2 separate regions of the Homo sapiens genome follow, and region 1 is linked to region 2. Evidence: fine-mapped expression QTL. A gene starts in region 2. The other region holds a variant in brackets. All regions are shown on one strand. Distances are between the middles of the regions.

Region 1 (8,000 bases), 50 kb after region 2:
CAAATGACTCAGCCAGTTGATGTCAGTCAGCCTGTGTCAACAGCCACCCCAATGCTGGCACAAAAGGCACTAGAACAGAATAGCCTGATGGCAGAGATGAAGTGTGCATGGCTCCAGCAGCACGGACTCCTCTCATTAAGGCTGATCTAGCTACTGTTGCTGCCCCATGTCTAACTTGCCAGCAACGGAGACCAAAGTTGAGCCCCGGAATCAGCACCATTCCTCATAGAGACCAGCTAGTCACTGGGTGGTAAGTTGACTACATCTGTCCTCTTCCACTCTGGGTATGGGTTTATCTCGCCTGCCTGTAGGGCCTCAGGCAAGCATCACCATACAAGGGCTTACGGAGTGTTTGACCACTGATAAAACATCTCACATAACATCCTATCAGATCATGGGCTCCACTTTACAACAAGGGAATTGCAGAAATGGGTCCATTACCATGGAATCCACTTAGCCTCTCACATACCAGAATACCTAGTTGCTGCTATCCTGTTACTGAAATAAAAATGGTTTGTTGAAGGATCAATTGAGGTGCTAACTTGGAAGGCAACATCCTCCAGTGCACACTTTAAATCAATACTCATGTGGTGCTGTGTCCCTACTAGGTAGTATACATGGTTCCAGGAACCAAGTTGGAGTGTTTCCATATACCGTCACTCCAAGTAACCCACTCGGAGAATTAGTACTTTAAATCTACAAATATGGACTCTGTACTTATAAAAATTCCGGTTTCCAGAGAGCATAGGAAGAGTTCCTTTAAACTGAAAGCTGTTGTTACTGTCCAGTCATTTCAGTTTCCTCATGCTGATTGATTATCAGGAAGGCGAGGAGTTACCATGGGTTTTCTAGCCATGCAGGAAGGGTAATTGACTCCAATAATCAGAAGGACATTGAGGGCTGCACTTACATACTGAATGTGGCAGGGAAGAATATGTTTGGAATCCAGCTTAGGCGTTCTGTAATATTCCCTTGTCCAAATTTGATGTATACAGACAATTGCAGCAGCCATGGCCCAAGAGGGCCCAGTGATTATGACTCAGATCCTTGAGGATTGAGGGTCTGGGTTGTCTCACCAGGTAAACCACCTAGATTAGAAGAGGTGCTAGCAAAGGGCACCTCTTTGGGGAAAACAGAACGGGTAGGGGAGAAGAGGAATGACAAGTATTGGTTATGGCCTCGAGACTAGCTGTAGCTGTGAAGGTTGTAGTTTATTTCACTAACGTTCCTCTTGTATATTTCCTTTAGGAAGAGGGACCAAGCAAAACCCCAGAAGAGTTGATCTCAAAGCTTATTTTATGAAGAAAATTGACCTGAGTGACACAAAGGGTTGGACTGTAGTAGATGTCACGTTTTGCTGCCTAGATCTCCATCCAGGGATGAACTCTTATTTCCTCAGCTTCTTTGTCTCCTCAGCTTCTGGGAGGGTTGGCAGCTGATATTCTCACCTGAGTCCCTTTCTAGGACTTGCCCTTGCCTGAAGAGAGCTGTGCTGCCCAACATGATGCCTCCTCCAAGGTACAATCCACACCCAGTGACTAATAAACAGGGGTTACAAAGGCATGCCTGCTTGCCCCAGTTTGGGACAACTTTACCAGGCCAACCCAGCCTCAAGGCTCTCCACAGGAACAGGTGAGGCCATAGTTGTGATTACATCACAGGTCAGTTTCTCCTCTGCCCAAGCCTTCTTCCTTCATTCCTCCACAGATGCTGATCCTGAGATTCCTTTCCAGTAAACTTCCTCCATGCAATCTTCATCTCAGGAGTCTGTTTCCTGGGGAAACTAACCTGCAACTGATACAAATGCCTATTCTGTGAGATAAAACACTAAAAGTACAATGCGAGTGGTATAAATATTCTGCTACAGGAATACAAAGTCAGGTATCATTTTTGACTTAGGTAGTCAGAGAATGGAGATATTCTGAGTTGGACTTCTGAGATACTAGGATTCAATAGGTGAAGGGAAGATGAGATGGTATAAGACTAACATAGGCAGAATTTTGCTAAACGAATTGGAGATGAAACATCATAAGTGCAGGTGCACAAGTAGAAAAGTAAAATCAGAGCTCAAGGAAGGAGAAGTGATCCAGCTGGGCAGAAATATGGGGCCTATATAGAGATATACCAGGAAATAAAGCCAGGACGAATGGCAGGGTAGGACCTGATTGTTAAGGGTCTTAAATGCTGGGGTCAAGATTGTGGCCCTTACTTAAAAGTTGGTTGGGCATGATTTTGGGAGTTGTAGCAAAAGATGTGGCAAACTCAAAGCTTCCTTTTCATGTAAAGTATAGAGAAGTGGAGGTTCATATCATTAAATCACTGTAATTTCAGTGTGAACTTCTAACAATTTGAGCTAACCATGAGATAGGACACCTTATCAAGCAATGAGCTCTTCATTATCTAAAGAGATGCTGAATTTCAAGTCCATGTAGAGGAAGTCTTGTGTTGACTAGAGCATAATATGTCTGGGGGGACTTTTCTTCTTTTTTACTGATATTTAGTAACTTGGATATTGTGCTAAGTGCTTTACAGGTATTCTTATTTAATCCTCACAAGGCAGTATGGTAGATAATCTATTATATTGAAAATAATGGGCCAGGCACAGTGGCTCACGCCTGTAATCCCAGCACTTTGGGAGGCTGAGGTGGGTGGATCACCTGAGGTCAGGAGTTCAAGACCAGCCTGACCAACATGGTGAAACCCTGTCTTTACTAAAAATACAAAAATAAGCGTGGCATAGTAGCTCACACCTGTAGTCCCAGCTACTCAGAAGGCTGAAGCACGAGAATCACTTGAACCCACGAGGTGGAGGTTACAGTGAGCCAAAATCACACCACTGGACTCCAGCCTGGGTAAGAGAGCATGACTAGGTCTCAAAAGAAAGAAAGAAAATAATGAACAAAAAATGTTGAGTGGGCAGTATTAAATTAAAAAAAAACCTAATGTATTAAAGAAGGAGAAAAGTATAAAAATTAGTCAACAAGCAGAGAAAGAAAGAAAATATAAAGGTAAAAATGTATGTTATCCAAATGAGACCTCTTAAGAAGAAAAAATAAAGGAAATTCAAAAAATAAGTTAGGAAATAGTGAGTAAAATTATGAAGTTAAAAATTCACCAAAAATTTATTGATATGTCCAAGTTCAGCTTGTAGTGAACAGACTCTTCTTATGCAGAATTTGAGCAAAGTGCTAACACAACAGAGTTAGGTAATGGGATGAGGGTCAGTCAGATCACTCTATTTTTGGAAACTGGTTTCATGACTGCTTCCCCTTACTTAGTCATAAACAGGCTATATAAAAAGCTGTCAGAGTGGAAAGAGGGAGAGGATTTGTGAATTTTTTTTTTTAGCATGTTTTTATGGTTCTGTAAGTCACCACCCTCCCAAAGGGATGAAGTTTCGGGGTGCACTCCCCTTACCTCAGCCTAGTAGGGGGACTTCCAGGAGATAATGAGAGAGTTGGATGTTTCCTCAAATTTACAGACACAAAGACTGGTGCCTGGCTTCTCCTGATAAAGCTAAACCTGCATGTGGCTGGTCTCTAGTTGGCTAGATAGTAGTAGTTAAAATGAAAAGAAACACTTAATGTTAGATGCCATCCAATAGGGCCACCTAAAGGGATGGAAGGTTCTCAACAACAAGAGCCCAGAGGTAGAAGCAAGACTCTTAGCGGGGAAGGATGGAGTCGCAAGTGAAAACCTAGACAAAGAAGCATCTGTCCTGGTCCAGAGGCTTCCCCAATAAAGATGTCTCACACAACTCTAAGAAGTTAGAACTCGAGAAAAAGACTAACAAGAAAAAGAGTAAGGTGTGTTTGTGGAAGAGGTGAGGCAGTTGTTTTCCTATAAATAATGTTAAATTAAACTAAATTTGGTCTGAGGATGCCTCGTAACTTGAGTCGCTACATAACAAACTGCAACCTAACTTAGGAGTATTTTTTTTTTGTACTAACGAGGTGAGTCTCAGCCAATCACAGCAGCCAAGCTACAGCCAATCCCATGTGGCCAACTGATCAGCCTATGCCCAGTAAGACAACTGCTCACCTGTAACTACTCAAGCTGCTTCTGGACCTCATTTCCATTTGCTGTTTATAAGTGCTGCCTGCCCACTTTGCTGAGCAGAACTCTCTGAACTTCTTTCGTTTTTGAGGGTTACTTGATTAGAAAATTGTTCTTTGTTCAATTAAATTTTGCTAAATATAATTCTTTTAAAGATTTTCTTTTAACAACAAAGATGGGGATATTTGAACAATACCTTGGTTGGAGGTGACATTCTAATTTCTAAATTGAGGCTATTTGTATTTTTAGCAGGACCCAAGGACTGTCACTTAAAAGCAGGCTAAAAAGCCTTGAAATTTTCTAACTTTCCATGCGAGAGCAGTGATAGATAACCCCACTACGCAAAATGTCATGGGGCAATGGGAGACAAAAA[C/A]TAAAGCTGTGTTTCAACTGCGTCTCTGAATGATACGATTATAGCACTTACACAATAACCACTTGAGAAAAAAGAACAGCCTTGCACCAAAAATCGAATGAGAAGTACAAGCACAGTGAAGTAACAGGTCACTTTACAAAAAAAAGTAAAGGCTGAAAGGGGACGAGCAAATTGCCCAAGTCTGCATGGGTGATAAGTAGCAGATCTGGGGCTCGAATCCAGATCCTGAGCTTTTAATACCTATGCAACACTTCCTCTGTTCCTTCCCTTCTGAGAACGTCATTATGTTCATTGGGGTGTATCCCCTGCTATGGTTTACAGGGGAGGGTTCACACTTTCACCATTCTGAAAGATTATTTTGAATTTAAAAAGCTGGCAAGATGTCTCTGAACAATGGAACATAGCCCAAGGCTGCAATTTTGTTGCACACATTACAGTGTTTTAAGGCCACTGGTGGCCTGTTCTTTGAGATGAAAACAATACATCAGTAGGAACAAAGTGAAAGAGAGTAAACTGGTCTCCAGGTACCCAAACAGTATGTGAAGTCAACAGAGGAACACTTCCTGTGGTCTATTAATAATTCAGAAGCCCTTTATCCTCAACCCTCCTCCACTCTCTAATTCCTAAGTCTTCTTCCTAGTGTCTCTTACTTCCTCTTTCCAAATAGTCTGGGCTGGCAGGCTGCATTTAGGTAATCACTGCACAATACAATTACTGATTCTGTTTACAAGATTCTTGCTAGTATTTTATTTTTACCCTTTATAGTGTTTGGCTTTTAAAAGCAAATGAATATGGAGTCATGATTTTTTGGCTGCCTTTCCCTTTGGCATATGATATTTATGCCTTTAAAACTTGTTGTTGTTCCAGGGCATTTCACTGATGAAATTTATCAAAATGAACCTACAAATCAGCCACTAAGAGACTGCATGAATAAAAACTGTTAGTAGGAAAATGATTATGACAAAAAAAAAAAAAAAAACAAAGAACAGCTTTAAGAAAAAGCCAGACTGTTAGTTTTTTTTTTTTTTTTTAGAAGGGTTGATATTCTGAACCCCAGCAACAATTTATCAAAGTCTGTTGCCCTGAATGAAATTAGATTTCCTTTTTAGCTTCAGGAATAGGCCATTCCTGGAAAAGTGGAGCACAGAAACATTTGGTAAAAAAATTTATTTTTACTCACAGAAAGAGTAGTTTGCAATGTTATTTCCAGTGAAGGGATGGGAACCAGGATTCAGATATTCATCTGTCTACAATACTGAGGTCCTCCTACCTCCTCTCCTCTGCAAAGGGACCCTCGCAGTATGCAAAAGTATTAAATATTTTTAATGTGATATTCTTTGGTTAAAATATAGTCACATTCTCATTCCTTTTTTCAAGCATAAGTATCAGTCAGATTTCAGAGTATAAGCTGAAGCAACAAATAGTAACAAAGCCCATGCATGAAGATATGTTCTCACTCATTTTTTTACTATTTTATTGTTGGCTACTTCTTCTATTTGCGTTATATTTAGTGTCACTAAGCTGCTATACACGTACTCATTTGAAGAGATGTGCTAAAGCTTTTAGTGTGTTTTGCTATTGATTATCCTATCCAAGAGTTTGGGTTACTCTACGATCAAGATGGCGGTCTGCAGTGAGCCCACCTGCCCGCCAACCTCTGCAACAACCAGCTGAGGATAATTGCACTGGGCTGACGCCAAGGCCATGATTAGATCTGCTAGTGGGTGAGAACCATGAGACTGAACCTCTAATCCCGAACCTCTCTTCCAAGCTACTTTCCAAACCAACTGCTGCCTGCAACTCCCTTTGACTAAATCTGACCTTCCTTCAAACTGGCTCTCTTCCTAATTTCCAGATTTTATGGAGGCAATGCTGTCCAGTGCATGGAGTTGAAATGAGGCTAAAGTGGGTTTGAATCCAAGCTCTACATTTACTGTTTGATCTTGGGCCAATTATTTATTCTTCCTGAGGCTCAGTTTCCTCCTTTGTAAAATGTCAGTAAAGATTCCTAGCATGTAGGATTTTATGCATTTAAAGAGATAACATTTCTAAGTGACTAGTTCAGTGCCTGGCACAAACACAGGCACTAAATAAGCAGAGGTTTCCTCCCTTTCCCCTAACTGTCAATGGTACTGCCACTGTGTACAGTAGCCAAGTTGGACATGTTGATACCAATTTTTCTCTTCTCCCCCTTTCCCTTAACTGAAGCCAATTATCAAGTTATGGAATATTAGAACTAGCAAGAACCTTAGAAATCCTGACCATATGATTCACCGATAAAATACAGAGAAAGACATAAGTCACTGATCATTGCAGCAATCTTGACCCCCACGTCAATTAAATAACAAAAATAATATCATTTTATGATAGAATTTGTTGCTCGACATTCGACAATCATGTTGAACAAAAGAAGATCAATCAACTATAATCAGTTCAGTGATCATGTACAAACACAGCTTCAGGCTCACAAGTCAAGATCTATTTTCCAAACCATTGTCCTATGGTTATTTATGACCGTGAACATTTTTTTGGTGGTAGAATGTTCCTTGTCACTGGTATATTCCTTTGCCCTATGTCTCTTCTTTCTTTGTCATTTACTAACATGAGGAGAGGGATCTGTCTCAAAGATAATTGGAGGAGAAAGCGATCATAGAACCAAAACAAAGGGGAAAAAATAAGATAATTCCAAAGGAAACAATATCAATGTTTTAAAGCCTAAAAATTGACTACTTAATAAATTACATTACATATACCCTGGAACTATTTTCTCCATGCATTGCATGTGCTATAGCATGAATTCATTTGTGTTCTTCTAGATAGTTTATCCTAAGGGAATCTACTAAGCAAAATAAGAATCAGATAATAGTTCTTTATCACACAACTCTTCTTCCTTTCATATTCCATGCTAAATAATCATGCATGATCCAAACCTCCTATTTAACACTTCACCCTCTTCTTCCTCCTATGTTCCATGTACAAGGGGAAAATAAATGATCCATAGTTAACTTTTTTTATGTGAAGACAGGAAGAATATGAATCATACATCAAGTTAGAGTATAAATAGTTACGTTTATAAAAGATTTAATTTCTTGAATCTCCATAGTCACTGGATATGCGTATCATCCAAGGTTCTCCCAATAATAAAACCAGAGCCAGGAAAGAAAAAAGACCCTGTCTTTAGTGATAGCCCATTGTGCTAAAGTCTACTTATTTGTCAGGGCAACTTGGAAAGTTCTGAAAGACCTGGCCTTCAAAGTTTACCATTTTGTCCACCAGCTCAGTGCACTGACTTGACACGACATGAGGCAAACAAGTGAGGAGAGTGGCCCACCACAGTCTAAGATTCTATTGGGTTACCTCTGAAACGCGAAGACATGCTGCTCACAGAAGAGAACAATGGGTACAAGGACTGCAAGGCTGCAAAGCTTCATCCCAACAGCAATTTTCTGTACAACAAATTTCTCTGAAGAGAAAAACCCAGATCATTGATTGCATAACAGCCTTCTTTACACACTGGTTAAAATATAACGGCATGTTCCCTCTTGTTCCTGTGGGTCAATCAACTTAGCTT
Region 2 (10,068 bases):
TTAACCATCAACTGGTTAACTGAAAAAGAGTTATGCTAAAGAAAATGGAAAAATAAAATTGGGTGAAAATTTTCATAGCAGAAATTATGTTTCATAAGTTTAAGGGACAACAGCAGTTATGTTCCAAAAATCAGGTTGAGAAAAATGAATGATATTTTAGTATTTTCTTTGCCTGACAGAAGTCAAAACAATCTGATCAAGCATATTTATTTTCCAGTAACACAAAAACAAAACAAAACAAAACTCAATGTTGATAGAAACAACTTTCAAAACAGGACAGACTGTAGAACTAGAAAAAGTCGAGGTGTTTCTATAATCTATACTACACTGACATAAAATTCAAAGGTGTTAAAAGTAATTATCAGACTATTTTACCATTATTAGTAATAACAAAAAAGGCAAATTGTAAAAATATTTTTATTTTATTTTACGTTTAAGCTCTGTTAGATTTGATGTAAACATAAAAATATTTTTTAAGGGCCAGGCACAGTGGCTCGTGCCTGTAATCCCAGCACTTTGGGAGGCCGAGGCGGGCGGATCATGAGGTCAGGAGATCGAGACCATCCTGGCTAACATGGCAAAACTCCGTCTCTACTAAAAATACAAAAAAAAAAAAAAAATTAGCTGGGCATGGTGGCGGGCGCCTGTAGTCCCAGCTACTCTGGAGGCTGAGGCAGGAGAATAGCATGAACCCAGGAGGCAGAGCTTGCAGTGAGCCGAGATCACACCACCGCACTCCAGCCTGGGCGACAAAGCGAGACTCCATCTCAAAAAAAACAAAAAAACTCTCTCTATATATATATATGTATGTAAATAAAACATTCAAAAACTGAAACTATAGTAAAAATCTAATCCAATGACATAATTGGGTAATTCAACTAGATTTGCAAGTATCAGATAATGACAGTATATTATGACATTAGAAAACAATATTAAATTCTAGACCAAGATACAATCCAGAGCATACACTACTGTGGGAAGAGGGTAGAAACTGCCTCATAAGGGGAAGGAAAAAAAACACCATACTATATCCCGCTTTATACAAACTAAATATTAGTTGAAATCTTATCAATCATCAAAAGTTACTAGAATGAACCACAGCAGCTAAAAAAGTTTCATTTAGTCTCTATAAAGATCACAAATCTTTAATGTGGTTTCAAAGTAAAGACATATCACTTTAAAGGAAATTAAATCGTGGTAGTACCTAATTGAAACAGCAATAAAAAATTATAAACAGTGTTTGGTTCAATGAGGTACTTCAGGTCACACTTTTAAAAGAATCCAAAGACTAAGAACAACATTTGATAAATAAAAGATGGTGCATCAAGGAAGGAAAATATGAAATAATATATGGTGATTTTAAATTGGAAAATCTATATTTTTATCAATATAAAATGTAATAATTCTTTTGATATAATAGCAATTAATTTTTAGTGATTTTAAAAACAGAATTACTTCACAGTAATTATAAATTTAAGAACCAGTGGAGAGCATCACATAAACAATAATTTGCTGCAACACAAAATCAATTAAATATTAATTGTTCTCCAAGTAAGGAACTACACACCAATTCTACATACTGGTGTTAGCATTATAAGATAATCTTTGATTTAATTTTTCTTAGACTCATTCTCAGCTGAAATGTGAACATACGGAGGAGAAGCTGGTAAAATTTCCTATGTCTATTTGATTTACTGAGCACGAAAAAACTGAAAGCTAAGAGAAGTGGAGCTGAGAAAGATCTAGAAAATGTAGAGCTTTGAGAAAAACTTTTTTAACAATATATATCCAAGCATGATTCAATAATAAGTAAATGTATCACAATGTATAAGAAGTTTGAGAAAAACATAAAGTTTCATTATATATTGCTACATTAATATACAAATATAGAGTAATCCTCAACCAATAATTCAATTTTTAAAACATTTCTTAATAAACAAAATTGAATAGGTTCCAAAATTTCCTTATTTGCTAGTTATGTAGAACTTAGAAAACAGGCACAACCATCCCACCACACTGCCTCAAGTGGACTAACACTAATTTTTTATTTTTCCCTCCACTGTCACTGGAAATGAGTTAGTTCTGCCCCCAACATCTCTACTACCCCCAACATGCCTCCACTCCCAGCTCAGTCTCCTTCAAAAAATTCAATGGTAATGGTTTCCAGTTAGGACGACAGGCTATTTATTATCGTACTTATTATACTTAAAACATTGGTCATCTATCATCTCCTTTCTTTTTACTTTTTGAGGGTTCCAGGTATTAACTCTACAGTTTCTTTTTCTGGTCTGTCCTCTGTTGCCTGATTCGCACTACTCTCCTCCCTTGACCTATTGCTTTGCTGGTCTGAGAGCTTCTCTCCAATCCTAGACTCCCTAAGGCAAACTTTGAAGATTTCGCCGGGCGCGGTGGCTCACGCCTGTAATCCCAGCACTTTGGGAGGCCGAGGCGGGCGGATCACGAAGTCAGGAGATCGAGACCATGCTGGCTAACATGGTGAAACCCTGTCTCTACTAAAAATACAAAAACAAAATTAGCCGGGCGTGGTGGCAGGCGCCTGTAGTCCCAGCTACTCGGGAGGCTGAGGCGGGAGAATGGCGTGAACCCGGGAGGCGGAGCTTGCAGTGAGCCGAGATTGCGCCACTGCACTCCAGCCTGGGTGACAGAGTGAGACTCCGCCTCAAAAAAAAAAAAAAAAAAAAAAAAACTTTGAAGATTTCAAGGGTTGGACTTGCTATGAAAGACAATCAAGTGAAGACTAATGATCCACCTCCTCACCTCCCTCACCCTACGCCCATATTCTTTCCACAGAGACAAAATTGCTTTTACCAGTGACATCAAGAACTATTCAAGATTCACCTACATAGTAATTATCCCAGGAATTTCACTTGCAGCTACTACTGTACTGAGTCTCCCAATTTAGCGAAGAAATGAAATTAAGTAAAAATGTGGCCAAGCGCAGTGACTCACGCCTGTAATCCCAGCACTTTGGGAGGCCAAGGCAGGCGGATCACGAGGTCAAGAGATTGAGACCATCCTGGCCAACAGATCGAGACCATCCTGGCCAACATGGTGAAACCCCGTCTCTACTAAAAATACAAAAATTAGCTGGGTGTGGCGGTGCACGCCTGTAATCCCAGCTACTCGGGAAGCTGAGGCAGGAGAATCGCTTGAACCCGGGAGGTGGAGGTTGCAGTGAGCCGAGATCGCGCCACTGCACTCCAACCTGGCAACAGAGGGAGACTCCGTCTCAAAAAAAAAAAAAAAAAAGATGTACTCTACTTTTTCTCAGACTCCAAGAGTACCATACTTTGTCCTAAAGTAATACAGCATCTGAGTATGCGGTCTGGGTTACAGCAAGGTCCTGGACTGAACATTTAAAACAAGAATAATGACAACAATAATACACACACACATATTCTTAATAAAATGTTCTTTAATGTGATATATATATGTGTGTGTGTAAAACGTCTGGTGAAAAAAGAAAAAAGCAGAAACTGAAGATTTCTAACTGAAAAAATTCTTCTGATCATCCATGTAAAAACTTCCACAAGTAGTCAACAATAAAATGTTACTTAAATATTACTAATGAGACATTCATGAATTTGAATAAACAAAATGCTTCATGCTTGTAAAGAACACAATATATAACTTTAAAAATCCCATTTATCTAAAAATATACACACTATCTACAATACAGCAGAAAAACATTTCCTTTTTCATATATTAAAACTAAATGTTACCAACTAATGTGACAATTAGAATTTTCAATCCTATTTAAAACTTTGGGCCCGTAAAGGAAAATGAACACCACAACAGTTAAAATGTAGATTTTCGGGGCGGGAAACTTTTTCAAATTATGTATGAACAGGCTGAACATGACAAGTAAATGCTTCAAAGTATATGAGAAAAATTAGAAACCATAAGATAAAAATGTAAATACTAAAGTCTTTCCTATCATAGAGAATAGAAATCAAGGTCATACCAATAACTTACTAATTTACTCTTCTATGAAGGTTTTCCTCCATTTTTGTTTTCAAATTATTATTTGGTTTAAGTTGCCATCACACTTCCACCCACATCATCAAGTCTTTCTCAAACACGAGCATTATCAAAGACAGAGTGGCACTAGTGAAAGCCTATTTCGTTATTTTCCTATTTCTCCTCTCCATTTGCAGAGCAAATGAATATCTGAAGTCTTTATAATCTCTTTTCAATTAAAAAAGAAAATGGAAAAAGAAAAAGAAAATCCGGGACACAAAGTTTGAGTCTATTAATAAAGACACAACAAAAGAGGGTCTTAAATGGGAACTGCTCCCTTGCCCCGAGAAACTTAGAATAACACTGTACTCAGAAGGTTCACATTATAATTATGGCTGAGAAAGGAGAAGCATACAAAAGGGTCTCTTTTTGAATAATGACTCCAGAAGCTCAATTAATAAAATCTTGTCAATAAACACATATGCGTTCTAGTATCTTCACTTCAATCCATAATTAATTATCTTTTCCAGGTCTCATCTACTGGAAGCATAAGTGAAAGCATAACACTTTAATCCGGATGAGTAGCGGCATAATATTAGGGAAATTTCAAACAATTAGGCAATTAAAACTACATGAATGTACTAACTAGTAGGATAAATCCCTATACTCTGAATTTCTAAGATTAAAAAGGTGATACTAAAAATAAGGTATCTTCACATTTATACTTCATATTTTTAGAAAGAAAAATTAACTTTATTTGATGCATAGTTTGAGAGAATTTTTTAAAAAGAACTTTCTAAAACAAACTTTCAGATTGCTTCCGTAAATTTAATGCTAAAACAATTCCAAACTAAATTCCAAATACAACTGACAGAACTAAGCTGACTACATAGGAATTAGCAAAGCAACACTGCAGTACTATGCAGAAAAAACAATTTGTTAAAAAGACTGTGCACAGAAAACATCCCATGCTGGTAGCTACTCTAAAGTGAAGTAAAAAGAACTGCATCATACAAAAATACAAAAAAAAAAGAATAAAAGACTCTTTCTATATCAACAGCAGTTAATGCTTCAACTACTACTAACAGCTGGAGAAATAGCTCCACCTCTATATGAGATGGAGTTGGGAGAGATGAGGAGGTGAGGAAGACTATCATCCACTGAAAACCAACTCTCTAAGTAAATTTAAGTTAAACAATGTGTTTCCTCTATGTAAATGCCAATGCATATTATAAATACTGATGATATTACAATTTTAATAATTTGTAAAGATGTTAAGATACCATCCACTTGCTGGATTTTTAGTATGTTAAATTCATATTACAAATATGAAAATCACATAAGCTTGCAAATCTCAAAATATGCAATGTTCATTTAGAATGACCAGTAATCAGGAAGCCAGTAAGAGGCATACATTTGATAAAACTGAATCCTACCAGATGCACAGAGTGAAAGCCTTAGTTTCAGAGTGCAACTATTTTTAAAGCCGCAATTGTTACAAGCTTGCATCAACTTTGCTAGTCTCTAGTTGAAACTGTCATCTGTTATAATCTAAATAGTTCATTAAGAAAATAAAAATTATTTGAAAATCTATAGATTGTATTCACAAAACGCTCCAATATATTGTACTAAAGCCAGTAATTTCAAATGTTACAGAACTAGACCCCGCTAACTGGCACCATATACCCATAGACTGAACTGCATAAGTATTTATTCTCCAACGGTATCGCGGACTTCGAAAACTTGAGGTGTAAAGATGTTTTCCAAATTTTTAAAACTACTTTAAAAATCCAAAAATCTTAAGAGACTTCATACTCCCATAATTTTCAAAGTAGTTCGAATTACCTGAAAGCCCCATAGTATAACCAAATACCTTAAGACTACCCTTCACAAACAACATCTTACCAACATAATTCAAGTATTATCAACTCTAAATAATTTTCAAACCACATAAATTGCGTTAGCCTATTACAGAGAGATAATGCCGCCAAACAGACTCTCTTCTTTCTATTCCACTTTCCCCCGTTTCTGACAGTTGCCAAAACTACCTACCTAAGGCTTGTGAAGATAAAGTAGCACTCAATTCCCAGGACCTAAATCGTTATCACTGCTGAGGGAAAAAAAAAAAAACAAGACCAATCACAAGTAAGATGTTTTTCTCTAACAGATCTGGAATGAGTATAGAGGAAGATTCTAAATTTAAGCCCAAATTGCTGCACCCTTCCATCGCACACAAATACGAACACCATACAAGGGTTCCCGTGCTTACATCAAATGGTAACGAGGGGTACAGCCTATTGTCTGAGTCTACTTATCGCCCTTAGACAAATGCCAGAATCATAATCAGAGTGAGAAATTACGCCTGAGCACAGGGGGCTATTGCAGAGTTAAGGGTGGGATGCTCAAGGAAAGCTCAAAATCCCAGTGACTCAAGCAAAGACGGGGGGGGGTAACCCGGGCCTCCGCATTACGGGTCCGCTCAATGCCTTCCCCAGATACCCACACCAATTCACAGAACGCTTACTTCCTCCCCAAGCTCCCTTCGCAAGTGCAGTCCGGAGGCACCACCGCCGCCGCCGCTCCGAGGAGCGGGGGAGGCGACTCTGTCCCCGCGCCTGGACCCAGGAGGACGACGACGAGGAGAAAGCGATGCGCGCGCGGCTCCCGGGAACCGGCTCTTGGCTAGCGAGGAGCCCCCGGGATGGCTGAGAAGCAGAACCAACCCGCCCGCCGCCTCTCCAGGGTCAAGCGAAACTGGGTCGCAGGAAGAAAAATAACGAAGAGATTGTAGATTAAGAAAAGGCAACAAAAACACTACCAGGCCGCTAGGAGGACCGCCTCAAAATGCCGCCGGAAGTCAGAGGTTTGCCCTGTTCCTCTGTAGACCCAGGCAGCTTCCGGCCGTCAGATTAGTCGTCAGTGCGCAGACACCACCCTTCGTGGACACGCCCTCTAGGCGTAAGGTTCCATGCGAGCGGTAAGAGTGCGGCGGGACTTGGAAATCGAATCTGTGCTCTGTGAGAGATCCTAGGAAAGGAAACTGGGAGCCCGGGAGAACTAAAATTCCCAATTAAAAGTGAATTTAAGTGAGTTTTCTCTTTTTATTACATAATTCCTTACCATAAACAGCTGTTGTAAATGCGCAAAATGCGGCATTTGTTGACAGTACCTAGAGCCACTCATTCATTCGTTCAACAGTGTTTATTGAGCAGCTGAGCTGGAATGAGAGGCTATGTTTGTCGTTTTTGACACCCCTCCCCTTTCTGGGCCATCGCCTAATTACCGTGGAGCAAACGGAATGCATGGTTGTATTTCTAAAGGCACAAGCAGAAATTTATTGAAAATTTGGAGCAGAAATCTTTAATGTACTTCTGACCACCCTTCCTTTTGTTGAGTAGGATCCAATGATCAGCGTGAGATGATCATTGATTAAACTTGCTTGAGATGGCTAGTCAAACGTCGAAACTTGCTTGAGATGGCTAGTCAAACGTCGAAAATCAAAGAAAAAGTAGGTAACTAGACTTTTACAATTTTTTTTAAAGGGTAAAAAGACATGAACCCTAGTCTGCCTTAATGGCAAAGTAGCACTTATTAGGTTCTCTGACAGAACCAAGGAATAGGAAAATCTTTTATCAAAACTACGGATAAAACTTAAAAATAATTTGATACAATGATTTGGTCTTGCTGGAATCAGTAAATTAAAATACGGAAGCAGAATGATAAAATCAGGGGCATTAAACATTCCTAATGACATGCCAAGCTATTTTAGAGACAGCGGCAAAAGCTTCTCTACAGGTGGGTTTGATGTAACGCTCCGGCAGCAAGAATCCGTATGTGCCCGTATCTCGAAGTTCAATTGTAAACGAATATTTGATGCCCAAATCATAGATCCAATCGTCCCCACCTCCAGGAGCTAGGTCTAAAAGAAGAAGAAAGAAATTGTTGAAATACAGACGTTTCAAATTAATTTACAAACTGGGAATTGTTTGATTTAAATGTTTATTTGTTTGTATACCTTTAGATTTTTTTCAGTTTTTAACTAATATAAACAACTTTACAATGAGTACCCTTGTTTATACATAATTGCTTCTTTGTCTCTTTAGAATATTCTTCCCTAGAATAGATTTGCTAGTCTAAGGCTCTGTACTTTTTGCAATTACGGCATGTTCCCAAATGGACGTCAAAAGAACTGAATTCATTTATACTTCCACAAGCAGGGTATGAATTTGCCCATTTCCCCTTCCCATACCATCAATAGGAATTATGAATTCTGATAATTTTATGGGCGAAAAATAATATCCAACTGTCTTAATTTATGTTTTTTGATTATCAGTGAGTTGCACATTTGTTTGGCATATTTATTGGCTATCTTTATATTTCCTATCAATTGTCCTTCCTCATTTGTCTACTTGGTTCATTTTATCAATTGCTTATAAAAACGACATTAGTGTTATTAGCTTTGTTTGGCATGTAGACCTTTTTTTCTCCTTTCATTCATTTCTCCTTTCACAAGAATTTTTTCTCCTTACTGAGATTTCAACTTGGTTTATGCAGGGTTTTCATATGAAAATATATGCTGTACCTGGAATTTACTTTGGTGAAAGACATGTTAATAATCCAATTAATTTTTTTCTAGGTAACTTGTTAGGTTTTCCAACCGCATTAATTGAATAATCTGACTTTTTTTGGGGGGGTGCTAAATTGAGTCCAGGTTTATGGCAAAGTCTGACCCAAAATTTTAATTTATAATTTTAGCATCTATCTAATACAGTTTGGGAAGCATCTCATGAAAGCTACAATTGCCAGAAGACTTGTTACAGTTTAATGCATGTTAACTAAAATGTGTACATATTTTAGTGTTCATGATAAATACAGTTTCGACCTTTTTTGAGATGGAGTCTCACTCTGTCACCCAGGCTAGAGTGCAGTTGCACAATCTCAGCTCATTGCCACCCCCACCTCCCAGGTTCAAGTAATTCTTATGCATTAGCCAACCAAGTAGCTGGCATTACAGGCGCCTGCCACCATGCCCAGCTAATTTTTGTATTTTTAGTAGAGACAGGGTTTCACCATGTTGGCCAGTCTGGTCTCGAACTCCTGACCTCAAGTGATCCTCCTGCCTCAGCCTCCCAAAGTGCTGGTATTACAGGCATGAGCCACAGCACCTGGCCTCTTTTTGTTTTTTTCTAATCATTAAAAAAAAAAAAAAAAGGAAAAACCTGGATTTGGCCTTCAGGCTGTAGTTTTCTGATGCCTGGTTACAGGTTTATTTTATGCTCCTCTTTTCCCATCTCCCTTCAAACTTCAAAAGGGCAAAATCAGTCTGTCCTCCCACTGTGTGTAGATAGGAGTTACTCACTAAATATCTTTCAGCAAAAATTAATCAAAACTTTTTGTTAAGAGTTTGTCACAAGTTTTGTGTGTGTAATATATATTAAAGACAATCAACTGTAATGTGTTATGAGCTATACTCTTGGGAACAGGCTAACACTAAAAAACACTTGATGCAAATGGCATGCCCTAGATTAGTGTAGTGTACAACCTGCACAACCTTCCATGGTGGCCCTGGGAATCATGCAAAAGTTTTATGAACTTTTCTGCTTCACTCAACTAGTATGATGCCAATTCTGTAATTCCTACTTGATTGTGATAAATATGATTTCTTAAATAGGATTTTGGCTTCTTTTTAGTAACTCATTTATTAATATAGCTTTGTTCAGCATTGTCATAGCTATTATGCTTCTGTTCCTAATTATTACAATTCAGTTGTATTACATGTGACCCTATTTAATTCAGAAAAATTAAATACACAAAGAAAAACAGATCACACAGATTTCTTTAGTAGCTCAAAGTTCTCTAAGATCATAAGAAGAAATACTTACATAAGGTTTCTGAGCCATGGCCATGTGTATACCTGGTATTTTTACTAATTTTCTCAATAGCACGAACTGCTTCACTGGCTACTAGAGACTGGAAGCAACAAGATATAGAATTTCAGTTAATGTGCAGCTTTGAAACATGACAAGTAGAAGTTTCTAAAAAATAATCATACATTAATTGAATCAAAGTATACAGGTAGAAAATCTA

Direction of the effects. Alleles are on the strand shown, and positions count from the first base shown. SD is a standard deviation of normalised expression in the study named.
As copies of A replace C in region 1, the expression in unexposed skin of the gene that starts at base 6,950 in region 2 goes down (moderate effect, 0.50 SD a copy in GTEx).

Evidence for each region.
Region 1: its variant is fine-mapped to the expression of CPB2-AS1 in unexposed skin (GTEx, PIP 0.97).

Annotation. Positions count from the first base shown.
Region 1 is chr13:46,097,150-46,105,149 of GRCh38, forward strand. It overlaps CPB2 (carboxypeptidase B2), which reads right to left and starts at 7,884. Exons shown (of 11, transcript NM_001872.5): 1 at 7,787-7,884. The coding sequence starts at 7,860. CPB2-AS1 (CPB2 antisense RNA 1) reads left to right here. Exons shown (of 3, transcript NR_046227.1): 3 at 1,249-4,198. The variant C/A (reference allele first, on the strand shown) is at 4,430.
Region 2 is chr13:46,045,899-46,055,966 of GRCh38, forward strand. CPB2-AS1 (CPB2 antisense RNA 1) reads left to right here and starts at 6,950. Exons shown (of 3, transcript NR_046227.1): 1 at 6,950-7,067. It overlaps ZC3H13 (zinc finger CCCH-type containing 13), which reads right to left and starts at 6,848. Exons shown (of 19, transcript NM_001330564.2): 1 at 6,506-6,848. CPB2 (carboxypeptidase B2) reads right to left here. Exons shown (of 11, transcript NM_001872.5): 10 at 9,864-9,951; 11 at 7,288-7,900. The coding sequence ends at 7,716. RefSeq lists enhancers at 6,032-6,568, 6,569-7,104, 6,634-6,803, 6,814-7,013.